Homo sapiens: one gene and its partners. The protein of the gene in region 2 interacts with the protein of the main gene of each other region in a biochemical or structural test. Each region holds a gene or a part of one and is shown on either strand. Other genes may lie near its edges. The genes, in order: ARK2N, SRPK1 and TCEAL2.

Region 1 (3,727 bases), on a different chromosome or scaffold from region 2:
TTTAAAAAAAAAACAAGGTACCATCACCAATATTTCAGATTCTTCTAACTTTATTCATTCATTATGGATCTAGAAACTAGTAATATTCCTTCCACATTGTTAGATAATCCAAACAATTCTGGTAGTGCAATTTTTGCCATAAAAATTGCAATCCAAACCTGCTGGTATTTAACATGGTTACAAAACCCAGATGATATGCTAAAACTGGTCACTTTAAATTGGGGTCTGCTATTTTTTTTTTTTTTTTTGAAATGGAGTTTTGCTCTTGTTGCTCAGGCTGGAGTGCAAAGATGTGATCTCAGCTCACTGCAACCTCCACCTCCCGGGTTCAAGCGATTCTCCCACCTCAGCCTCCTGAGTAGGTGGGATTACAGGCATGCACCACCACGCCAGGCTAATTTTGTATTTTAGTAGAGACGGGGTTTGGCCATGTTGGTAAGGCTGGTCTCGAACTCCTGACCTCAGGTAATCTACCCGCCTCGGCCTCCCAAAGTGCTGGGATTACAGGTGTGAGCCTCCGCGCCTAGCCTAGGGTCTGCTCTTATCTGTAATGCTTGGTCAATATACTAGTGCAAGATAAGAGGCATGAGAAAGTGATGGGGGTGCTAAATACAGACTGCCTCGTGAATGTTAACAACTCCTAGACTAATAGTGTGAGACATTTGCCAAATTTCCTGTCAGAGCCTTAGATAAATTGTGCCACACAGAAAACAAATCAGCTAGGACCCACACCAAGGCAATGAGATGCCGTGCTCTACAAGAGACACCAAAGGCATTCTGGGATGCCTCTGCCTCTTCCTTCTTCTATTTCAGAGCCAGGACCATTAGTCCTTTTCTGTCACTGTAACCCTCTTCAGCATCCCACACATTCCTTTGGGAGCTCCAGTATAGAACCTGACATTCTCTGGCCTTTGGGCCTTTTCTGCTCTGCCCCTCCCCACCCCGCCTCACCCCCCATGGAGGACTTCACAGGATTCCAATGGCAGAACAGTGCCTAAAGCATACAGAAAAGTGAGCCAAAGATGCTATGAGGTTCTTCAAATACTGTCAGTGGTAGTAATCTTTTCCAGTTCTAAGACAAGAACAAGCCCTGTAGAGAAAAATGTAAATACCGCAATTACCATATATTAAACTGAAAATAAAGCAGAGCACTTATATTTAGCTATTGTGACAGCTGGCTGTCTCTGTGTAGGTCTCTGCCTGTGTAGGTCTTTGGAAAGATAACTTCTTTCACTATATGAGAAAATTCTAAATTTTGTCCTCCCACTACAGACCTTTTCAACAAGAAAGGGTAAGAAAAAGTTACCAAGAAAAGGTAGTTATCAAAATAGGGTAAGAAAAAGAAGCACAGAAAAAGTAGTAACTAAATTATCATGGAAAACAGTTTCTTTCTGTCTTTAAAGGAAATAATCCAGCTACTTTTTAAACTGTAAATCCACTGGGTAAGAACTAGGCCTGAGCTTTGCAACACACTGAAGAGAAAGTAATACTACATACTGTATGACAGTCGCATGCTAGGCATAAAAAAAATAAAAAAATAAGTCACTACTCATTTAGCTTTAAAAACAGCAAATTACTACTTTTAGTTCTTTTTTTCTTTCTTTTTTTTTTTTTTTATTGAGACAGAGTCTCACTCTGTCACCCAGGCTGGAGAGAGGTGGTGCAATCTCGGCTCACTGCAACCTCCACCTGCCGGGATCAAGCAATTCTCCTGCCTCAGCCTCCCAAGTAGCTGCGACTACAGGAGCCCACGCCACCGTGCCCAGCTAATTTTTGTATTTTTTTTAGTATAGATGGGGTTTCACCATATTGGACAGGCTGGTCTCGAACTCCTGACCTCGTGATCTGCCCACCTCGGACTCCCAAAATGCCAGGATTATAGGCGTGAGCCACAGCACCCAGCCTACTTTTAGTTCCTTAAACAGCACGTTAAACAACCTTAAAAAGTGAAGGAAGAGGGCTGGACATGGTAGCTCACGCCTGAAATTCCAGCACTTTGAGATGCAGAAGTGGGCAGATTACTTGAGATCAGGAGGGCAAGACCAGCCTGGCCATCATGGTGAAACCCCATCTCTACTAAAAATATAAAAAAATTAACGGGGCGTGGTGACGGGTACCTGTAATCCCAGCTACTGGATAGGCTGAGGCAGGAGAATCACTTGAACGAGGAGGCAGATGCTGCAATGAGCGGAGACTGCCACCGCATCCAGCCTGAGCGACAGAGCTGGAATCCATCTCCAACAACAACAACAAAAAAGAGTGAAGGAAGAGCTCAAAAATCTAAAATCTGGCTGGGTGTGGTGGCTCATGCCTGTAATCTTAGCACTTCGGGAGGCCAAGACAGGCGGATCACTGGAGGTCAGGAATTCGAGACCAGTCTGGCCAACATGGTAAACCCTGTCTCTACTAAAAATACAAAAATTAGCCAGGCGCAGTGGCACACACCTGTAATCCCAGCTACTTGTGAGGCTGAGGCACGAAAATTACTTGAACCCGGGAGGCAGAGGTTGCAGTGAGCCCAGAATGTGCCATTGTACTCCAGCCTGGGTGACTGGAGACTCCCTCTTAAAAAAAAAAAAAAAAAAAAATCTAAACTCTTACCATCAATTTGATGCAGATAAACATGAAGAACATGACCATACTTCATCTCCTTCACTATACTGATTCTGAAACATGGCCATTCTGGTCTAATTATTAAAAACCCTACACTAGGAACAGGAAACCCAGGATTCATTTCTCTGTACTGCCACCATGTTAGGGACAAATCAAGATTACCATCCCTATTGTAAGGATGGGGAAAATGCTCAGAACCTACCTTCTTGACAAGAAGGCTGATGGAAAAGATAAGGTATTTAAAGTTTTAACTTCCCAGGGAAAAAAATCCTAAATAAGTTCAGTTTACCACAGCTATAAGCCTTCCTCACCAAGACTTCTGCTTCTTCTTGCCCCAACTACATTTGTTTGCAGTGAGCCCTTACTAGCAACAAAAATGAAGCCATTTTCAGATATATTAATACAGTTTCCTAAACATGCTGGATACAAGAGTTACCTGAGGCTATTATTAAAAAGAGATTCCCAGAAACCATTTCAGATTTATTGACAGAATCATCAGGAGAAACCTAGGAGTGTGAATATTTATAAACACACTGGGTAATTTCTACGCTCTGGCAAAATTTAAGAAGTACTTGTAGCAAGAGCAACTCGTTGCAGTGCAAGAGAGTAATTAGAAATCCAGTGACTGAGCCACTAATCACTTCCTTACTCAGTCTACTTCAGCATATTAACATAATGCTGGTTAGCATTTCTGAGGGCCTACTATGTGCTGTCCTCCGTAGTAAACACACTGTATTTCACTTAGTGGTAACAATAACCTTTTGGAGTAGATACTATAAAGGTTGTGCCCCAGTTTTGTAGATAGGGAAAACTGAGGCTTTATATAATTTACCTGAGGACATGCAGTTTCTAAGTGGCCACTGGTTCAAAATCACCCACTACAGTGTTCAATTCCAGCATCAACTTAAAAAAAGCAAACACATGGCAAGAATTGAAATGGAAAATTCAGGTCTTTTGTTGATCAGTAGCTTCTCTAATTTCGACTTACTTTTTAATCCCTGCATGTGGTTCAAGTCTTTTGCCTAGGTTAAAACTAAAACTAAATATATATTTTGGATGCAAGATAATCATCTAATTGCTTGGAAAAAGGCAACCTACTCTATCTTTAGTGCGT
Region 2 (3,500 bases):
GCCATTCTGTTGCTTCTGCAGCCAGCCTCCGAATGTACTGCTCATTCACTGACAATAAGATGTTCTCTGGTTTAATGTCAGTGTGGATGATACGGCACTTGGTATGTAAATAATCAAGACCCTGTAACACCTGAATGGAAATAGAGTGGCAGACTTGCAAACACAAAATACAGGCTTTCTGGAGAAGTAAGAGATTATAACATGACATTAAAAAAAAAAAAAAGATATGATAGCGTTTTCTATAGAGAATAAAAGCACCTTTTAAAAAAGCACAAATAAACTTTCTCAGAAAGATTAAACTATGAAAAAGGCAAGAAATTATTTACAATAAAAAATTCTTCAATGTTTTACAAAGCTGATTCTATTTGGAGATATTCTTCAACTATGTACAATGCAAAGACTGAGAATAAACTTCAACACACACACACCCTCTAAGTGTTGTAATGTAGGTGCTGACAGACATTTAGATATCTTTAATTCAAATTTCCTCACTGAGGAAGAATTGAGGTCTCTTGCTGCCCAGTTTGGAGCTCTTTCCAGGACATATAATCCAAACAAATTTTTGCACCTTGAAGTATTAATATTTTCCTGATGGTAAAATCTATACTGTATATTGAAGGCTCTTTAGAAAATTAGAAAATGCCTATGAATCATGCTGTATAAAGAGATGGCAATAATCTGACATAGCAATTATCTATTCATGTAAAATTACTATTTGCAACCAGAACTTCTGGATAAGGGCTCCAATGTTCCCAAGTCAGGAACCTCAGCTTCCCTTTCTAATTATTATAGGAGGCAAACCTGGGGGAAAATGGTTATGCTAAAACATTTAAAAAGAGAATAAGCACAATAAATTCTAAAGGTTGAATGAAATATTTAATTTTAGCAATTAACTTTTTTTTTTTTTTTGAGATGGAGTCTTGCTCTGTCGCCCAGGCTGGAGCGCGGTGGCGCGATCTCAGCTCACTGCAACCTCCGCCTCCCGGGTTCAAGCGATTCTCCTGCCTCAGCCTGCCGAGTAGCTGGGATTATAGGCGCTTACCACCACACCCGGCTAATTTTTGTATTTTTAGTAGAGACGGGGTTTCGCACTGTTGGCCAGGCTGGTCTCGAGCTCCTGACCTCAGGTGATCTGCCCGCCTCGGCCTCCCAAAGTGCTGGGATTACAGGCGTGAGCCACCGCGCCCAGCCAATAACTTACTTTTTAAAACAAAGAATTTTAAAACAAAAATTCTTTTTTTTTTTTGAGACGGAGTCTCGCTCTGTCGCCCAGGCTGGAGTGCAGTGGTGTGATCTCGGCTCACCGCAAGCTCCGCCTCCTGGGTTCACGCCATTCTCCTGCCTCAGCCTCCCGAGTAGCTTGGGACTACAGGTGCCTGCCAAGACACCCGGCTAACTTTTTGTATTTTGAGTAGAGAGGAGGTTTCACCATGTTAGCCAGGATGGTCTTGATCTCCTGACCTCGTGATCTGCCCGCCTCGGCCTCCCAAAGTGCTGGGATTACAGGAATGAGCCACCACACCCGGCCTTAAAACAAAAATTCTATTGGAAAAAATAAAGTCCTGACACTTCAAGAATATTAAAAAATCACTACATAGTCAAGACTAAGATACTTGCTGATTCAAGATACATACTTGCTGAATAATTTTTTTGACACAAGGCAGTGGAAGCCCCTGATAATTGGATTTGATGATCCACTTGAGCAGATGATGCCCCAAAACTTCAAATACCATGCAGATATCTAGGAATTCATTAAGGAGGGAAAAAACGGCACAAAAGAAGAACACGGCAAGACAAGCTGTGAATTCCACCCTATTAAATGTTATGTATTATTTTCTTTCAGTATAAAAAGTTACAGAGCTTGAATGAATAAATATGTAGCTGTTAATATTCTAAAATTTCAAAGTCTAATGCTATAGTCAATGAAAGCATTCATGAAACATTAAATTGTGGGCGGCTGGCTTCATCAATATTATTATGTACATTAAAATACTCAATGGTAAAAGAAAAAGTGAAACCTACATATGCAAATAGTGAAAGAAAGCAGTAGGCTCAAGCCTCAAGCTGTTGATTAGCTTCAGGTAAATTAGTTTCTTCCCTAATATCAAAATTGGTGTCCAGGGTAAAAATTCCCACTCTCACAGCTTCAAAGCAAGGAAAAACAAATTATTCCTTAACTATAGAAGAGATGAATGTACAAGAAAGACTTAAACCTCAAAAACGTAAATGCCAACATTTTTTTTTAAATAGGAAACTTGCTTAATGCTCTGTATTTTACAAAACTAATCTTGATTCCAGTGCCACCATGTGTTGTCCTTATGTATGAACAACCTGATGACACCACACAGCAGGAATACTCTGAGTCTAAAATTGTGCAGGGCACTACAGAGATTTTAGTAGTATCTTGATGTCTTCCACCCCCACTGGCTTCTACATGCAAGTTAAGACATACATATATAGTAATGGTCTAGTGCTCAGACTTTAACATTCTCCATTAAAGGAAAGCCTGAGCTCCTTGGAAAAATGGCCAAATCCAAGGTAGGAAAAATAACAGGGTAAACTTGGAACACCTTGCTGTTCTAACAAATAAAAGAACCTGTCAGGAAGAAACAGGAACCATCTTGAAAAGGATGTCACCAGCCAACATGGAGACTTCTTTTTTTTTTTTTTTTTTGAGACAGAGTCTTGGCTCTGTTGCCCAGGCTGGAGTGCAGTGGCACTATCTCAGCTCACTGCAACCTCTGCCTCTCGGCACTACAGGTGTGTACCACCACGCTGGGCTAATTTTTGTATTTTTAGTACAGATGGGGTTTCACCATATTGGCCAGGCTGGTCTTGAACTCCTGACCTCATAATCTACCTGCCTTGGCCTCCCAAAGTGCTGGGATTACAAGCGTGAGCCACTGCGCCCGGCCAGACCACTATAAAGGATAAAATTATGAGTTAATATATGAATTAAAAACAGAACAAGTCCACACTGATCTGAAAGTAAGTGTGGAGGCAGGAGGAAGAGAAACATCTTCTTTAGAGAAGAAAGCCAAATAATAAATACATAAGGGATTACAGAAATAGAAAATCACCATTTTTACAATCACTATAGTATACTATTACTGATTCAGGTAAGAATCAGTGAATACTAAAACAACTATGTGAAAGACTGTCGGGAAAAAGGATTGTCACAGTGTCAAAATATCATTCCACAGATTGCTTATTAATTACAAAAAGAACAAAGTACCTTTACAACTGGGAAATCTGGAAGGCACTGCCTTAACCAAGTGATCAAACTTACTACCACCAATGATAAGCACAAATTCACACCATGTGCCTTCTAATGCAATATACTAATATGCATTCGAATGCATATTCTAATGCAATAATCCATGTACTATGCTTGACAAACACGGTTAACCTGAATTTAATCATGAGGAAACAATCAAACAAATCCAAACTAAGGTGGCATAAAACAACTAGCCTGGATTCTTAAATTAAAAAAAAAAAAA
Region 3 (3,827 bases), on a different chromosome or scaffold from region 2:
AGAGGAGAAATAGTTGTTAATACTTTGGCTCCATTAGCAAAATAACTTAGCAAATAGTTACTGAAGACAGCTTAAAATCACTATAATTAGATGATTAAAACAGAAAATCAGTTCTTTTCAACTGATTTGATATTATTTTCATCAAATTCTTGAATAATTATAATAATTTTATGGAAGTTTATACTGATGAAATTGAAACACCTAGCCTCGATAATTCAGGAAAAAAATTCAACATTGAGGACAGAATTATTGGTGATGTGGTGATAATGACGAATACACATATTGATAGAGCAAAATACTGTAGGAAGATCAAGGTTTTACTAAATGAAGAAAGATGTGTAGCAGAAATATAATCAGAATTGCTTGTGTAACACACATAATTCATAATCCTGTAATCATGATAAGGTATTTTGCAAATCAAAATAAAAATAGTTGTTGCCCAGATATACACAAGACATACACATACATATGTACACACATATACATCTATACATATATGTGTGTATAAATAAACATGTGTATATATACATATACATGTCACTATACTGTAGAAGCTAAAATATTGGTGATTCTTAGTTTTTGTGGGTGGTGGCTTCACGAATGTGAAAGAAAAGGAAAGAAAAAAAAGACAAAGGATGGGAAGGGGAGGAAATAATAGGACGGGAAAGAAAAGGGAAGGAAGAGGGACAAGCAGGGATCGATGATAAGGGTGTGTTGTAAACCAAGGACTATGATGAATTTGTGCATCTGAAATTCATATTTAAAATGTTTTAATGCTTTCTTTTCTACCTGTCTGACATTCTCTCTCTATGAAAACTGATCAAATGTTGGAAGGTAAGTTTCAAGTGTGGAGAGAGACCAAGGGAGATGGCAAGAAGGAAGTTGGTAAATCAATTTGGGGTACACGGGCTTTGGGGTCCCTCAGGGACACTCAGGCGGTGATGTCCAATAGACAGTTGGCAAAGCTGATATGAGACACGGAGAAGGGAACAGCCTGGAGCTGTAGATCTGGGAGTCATCGGTGTTTACTGGAAATGAATGAGATCACACAGGGAGAGACAACTTGAGGACTGAGGAGAGAGGAGGCCCAGGACAGAACCCCAGGAACACCGCCACTCAAGGTGGCAGCTCAGCTTCCTGGCAGGCACCACTACCCCCCGGGCTCTGGAGTCAGGCAGAGCCGGTATTGAAAGTGGGCTGTGGAGTTCTGGGGCTGAGCGCTCTTGGCAAAGTCCGGTACCTCTATGATCAGCTGTCACACCTGGCGATAATGGGCATCAGAGAGATATGCCTTGCGAGGATGCTGTGAGCTGCGTCAGGTAAAGCACCTAGGGTCAGAAAGCCACCTCTCCTCCTCTTCTCCGCGACCCCACTTTGCTACACAAACGCACCGAGACTCCGACCGTCCCCAGCCTCCGGTCCCTCAGGGATGGAAGGTGAGGTATGTCAGGAAAGAGAGGGGGGCCCAGCTCCAAGGTGAGGTGTGTCAGGCAAGAGCGGGGGCAGAGCTCCGGTGACGCGGTGCTCACGTGACCCGCCCGGCGCCTACGTGGGCACCAGCCCCCGCGCCCGCCCGCCAGCCCGCCCAGCGGTCGGGTCCGGGCGCCCGCGCAGAATCAGCTGTCTGAGCTGCCCAGGCGGCGGGGGAGCAGCGAGCGGGCTTCAGCGAGCCGCAGGAGGCACAGGCCTGTCCTGGGTCCCCGCAGGTCAGTGTGAAGGCGTGCGCTGCCGGCGGACCCTGGGACAGGGGTGGAGGGGGCTGGCAGTAGGATTGGGGAGGGGGCGGAGAAGGGATCCGGTAGATTGGGGAGGAGGGGGATGCGGAGTCGCGGGGGCGGGGGCAGTGGAGGGAGAACCCCCGAAGCAAGCCTGGCTCGCCTTCTCGACGCCCCCTTGCACTGAGTCCTCCATCCATTTTAGTGCTGGAAATGGGGGGTGGGGGTAGCGACCCCGCAGTGCGACAGTGAAACGTAGACATATTCTGGAAATAACCCCTTCTCACAATCTACACCCATGGAAACACTTGATCTCCGCAAAAATGAGGTGGCGCTGGGGCAGGTTGCCTCCGGGGAAGGGGGACACAGAGACAAACGCAGTTTGGAAAGCATCCTGGTTTGGTGCCCGAGGCCTGGAAAGAAATGGCGGCTGGGGTGCGGGGGAGGTAGGGGAGGAAAACGGTGGGTAAGCAGGGCCTGGACTCAGGAAAGGGAACCGAGTCCCTGTGAGCCCGCTAAGCGCGCAGCCCCTGCCCCTGTCTCCTGTCTGTCCGCAGGTCTGCGCGTCTGTTGTTCCCAGCGCTCTGAGAGGCCTGAAAAGGAAGAGCAACCTGTCCAGAATCCCCGCAGGTCCGTGAAAGCAGGGGGCTGCATGGACAGGGGCCCACAAGGGTTGAGAGTGTGGAGGGCACAGTCAGGGCCGAATTGGGGCCCCTGCCCATCCCCTTACCTACATGAACACACACCTTACCAGGCTGAACCAGTGCAGAGAAGGTGGCAGGGCCTGCCAGGGAACAGCTGGCTCACGTGTGTGGGAGGAGTGGTGGGCTACGTGGTGGGCAGAAGGCCCTCTTGGAGGCCCAGTCAGCTTAGGGGAACCCTCACCAGGGGTGAGATGCAAGTAGTATCCAGACCTGCATTCCACCCCATGCCCTCAGTCTCCCATGTCTCCTCTTTGTCTCCTCTTCCCTCCACACCCATCCCCCAGGAAAGGAAAAGGAGGGGAAATCTCGACATGGAAAAACTCTTCAATGAAAATGAAGGAATGCCTTCGAATCAAGGAAAGATAGACAATGAAGAACAGCCACCGCACGAGGGAAAGCCAGAAGTAGCTTGTATTCTGGAAGACAAGAAGTTAGAAAACGAGGGAAACACAGAAAACACGGGCAAGAGAGTTGAGGAACCGTTAAAGGATAAAGAAAAGCCAGAGAGTGCGGGAAAGGCAAAAGGAGAAGGAAAGTCAGAGAGGAAGGGAAAGTCAGAGATGCAGGGAGGATCAAAGACAGAGGGAAAGCCAGAGAGAGGGGGAAGGGCAGAGGGTGAAGGAGAGCCAGACAGTGAAAGAGAGCCAGAGAGTGAGGGAGAGCCAGAAAGTGAAACAAGGGCTGCAGGAAAGCGCCCAGCTGAGGATGATATACCCAGGAAAGCCAAAAGAAAAACCAACAAGGGGCTGGCTCAGTACCTCAAGCAATATAAGGAAGCCATACATGATATGAATTTCAGCAATGAGGACATGATAAGAGAATTTGACAACATGGCTAGGGTGGAGGATAAAAGGAGAAAAAGCAAACAGAAATTGGGGGCGTTTTTGTGGATGCAAAGAAATTTACAGGACCCCTTCTATCCTAGGGGTCCAAGGGAATTCAGGGGTGGCTGCAGGGCCCCACGAAGGGACACTGAAGACATTCCTTATGTGTAGTGTCCCTGGCAGGCATTTGTCAGGCCATATGTTTTAACCTTATGGTAATACTTTGCTTTAGTCGTTCCTCCTGCTACCAGTAGCGTTTTGACCCACCTGCCAGTGTTTGCTTGCTCTATGTTTCAGTAGCAGATTTTCACACATGTGCATTGCAGAGACGTCATGATTCGTGGAAAAATAAAGCAGCTTATAATATCATCTACAGAATCTGTCTGTTTTTGTTAAATACATGAAAGGTTAACAGTGGTTTTCTGAGTTGTGAGCTAGCAGGTGATTTCATTTCTTTGTTTTCTTTCTACTAATCTTTCTTTTCCCAGAGAACACAAATTACTTTTCTCACAAAAATAATAAAATATTTTTAAAAAATCAGAACAGTATGTAAAAAGCAAAGAGAATAACTGTCCAGTGAACTT

The links.
Region 1: of the proteins of SRPK1 (region 2) and ARK2N, one has a biochemical effect on the other in vitro, tested with the Homo sapiens proteins (one large-scale study listed by BioGRID and IntAct).
Region 3: of the proteins of SRPK1 (region 2) and TCEAL2, one has a biochemical effect on the other in vitro, tested with the Homo sapiens proteins (one large-scale study listed by IntAct).

What each region holds. Positions count from the first base shown.
Region 1 is NC_000018.10:46,243,463-46,247,189, reverse strand, and holds part of ARK2N (protein ARK2N), read right to left. Parts: intron 1-3,727. UniProt on the Homo sapiens protein: AMPK substrate important for exercise capacity and skeletal muscle function.
Region 2 is NC_000006.12:35,872,599-35,876,098, forward strand, and holds part of SRPK1 (SRSF protein kinase 1), read right to left. Parts: intron 1,742-3,500; coding exon 1,635-1,741; intron 131-1,634; coding exon 1-130. UniProt on the Homo sapiens protein: Serine/arginine-rich protein-specific kinase which specifically phosphorylates its substrates at serine residues located in regions rich in arginine/serine dipeptides, known as RS domains and is involved in the phosphorylation of SR splicing factors and the regulation of splicing.
Region 3 is NC_000023.11:102,124,101-102,127,927, forward strand, and holds TCEAL2 (transcription elongation factor A protein-like 2), read left to right. Parts: upstream 1-1,578; 5' UTR 1,579-1,706; intron 1,707-2,272; 5' UTR 2,273-2,345; intron 2,346-2,703; 5' UTR 2,704-2,730; coding exon 2,731-3,414; 3' UTR 3,415-3,612; downstream 3,613-3,827. UniProt on the Homo sapiens protein: May be involved in transcriptional regulation.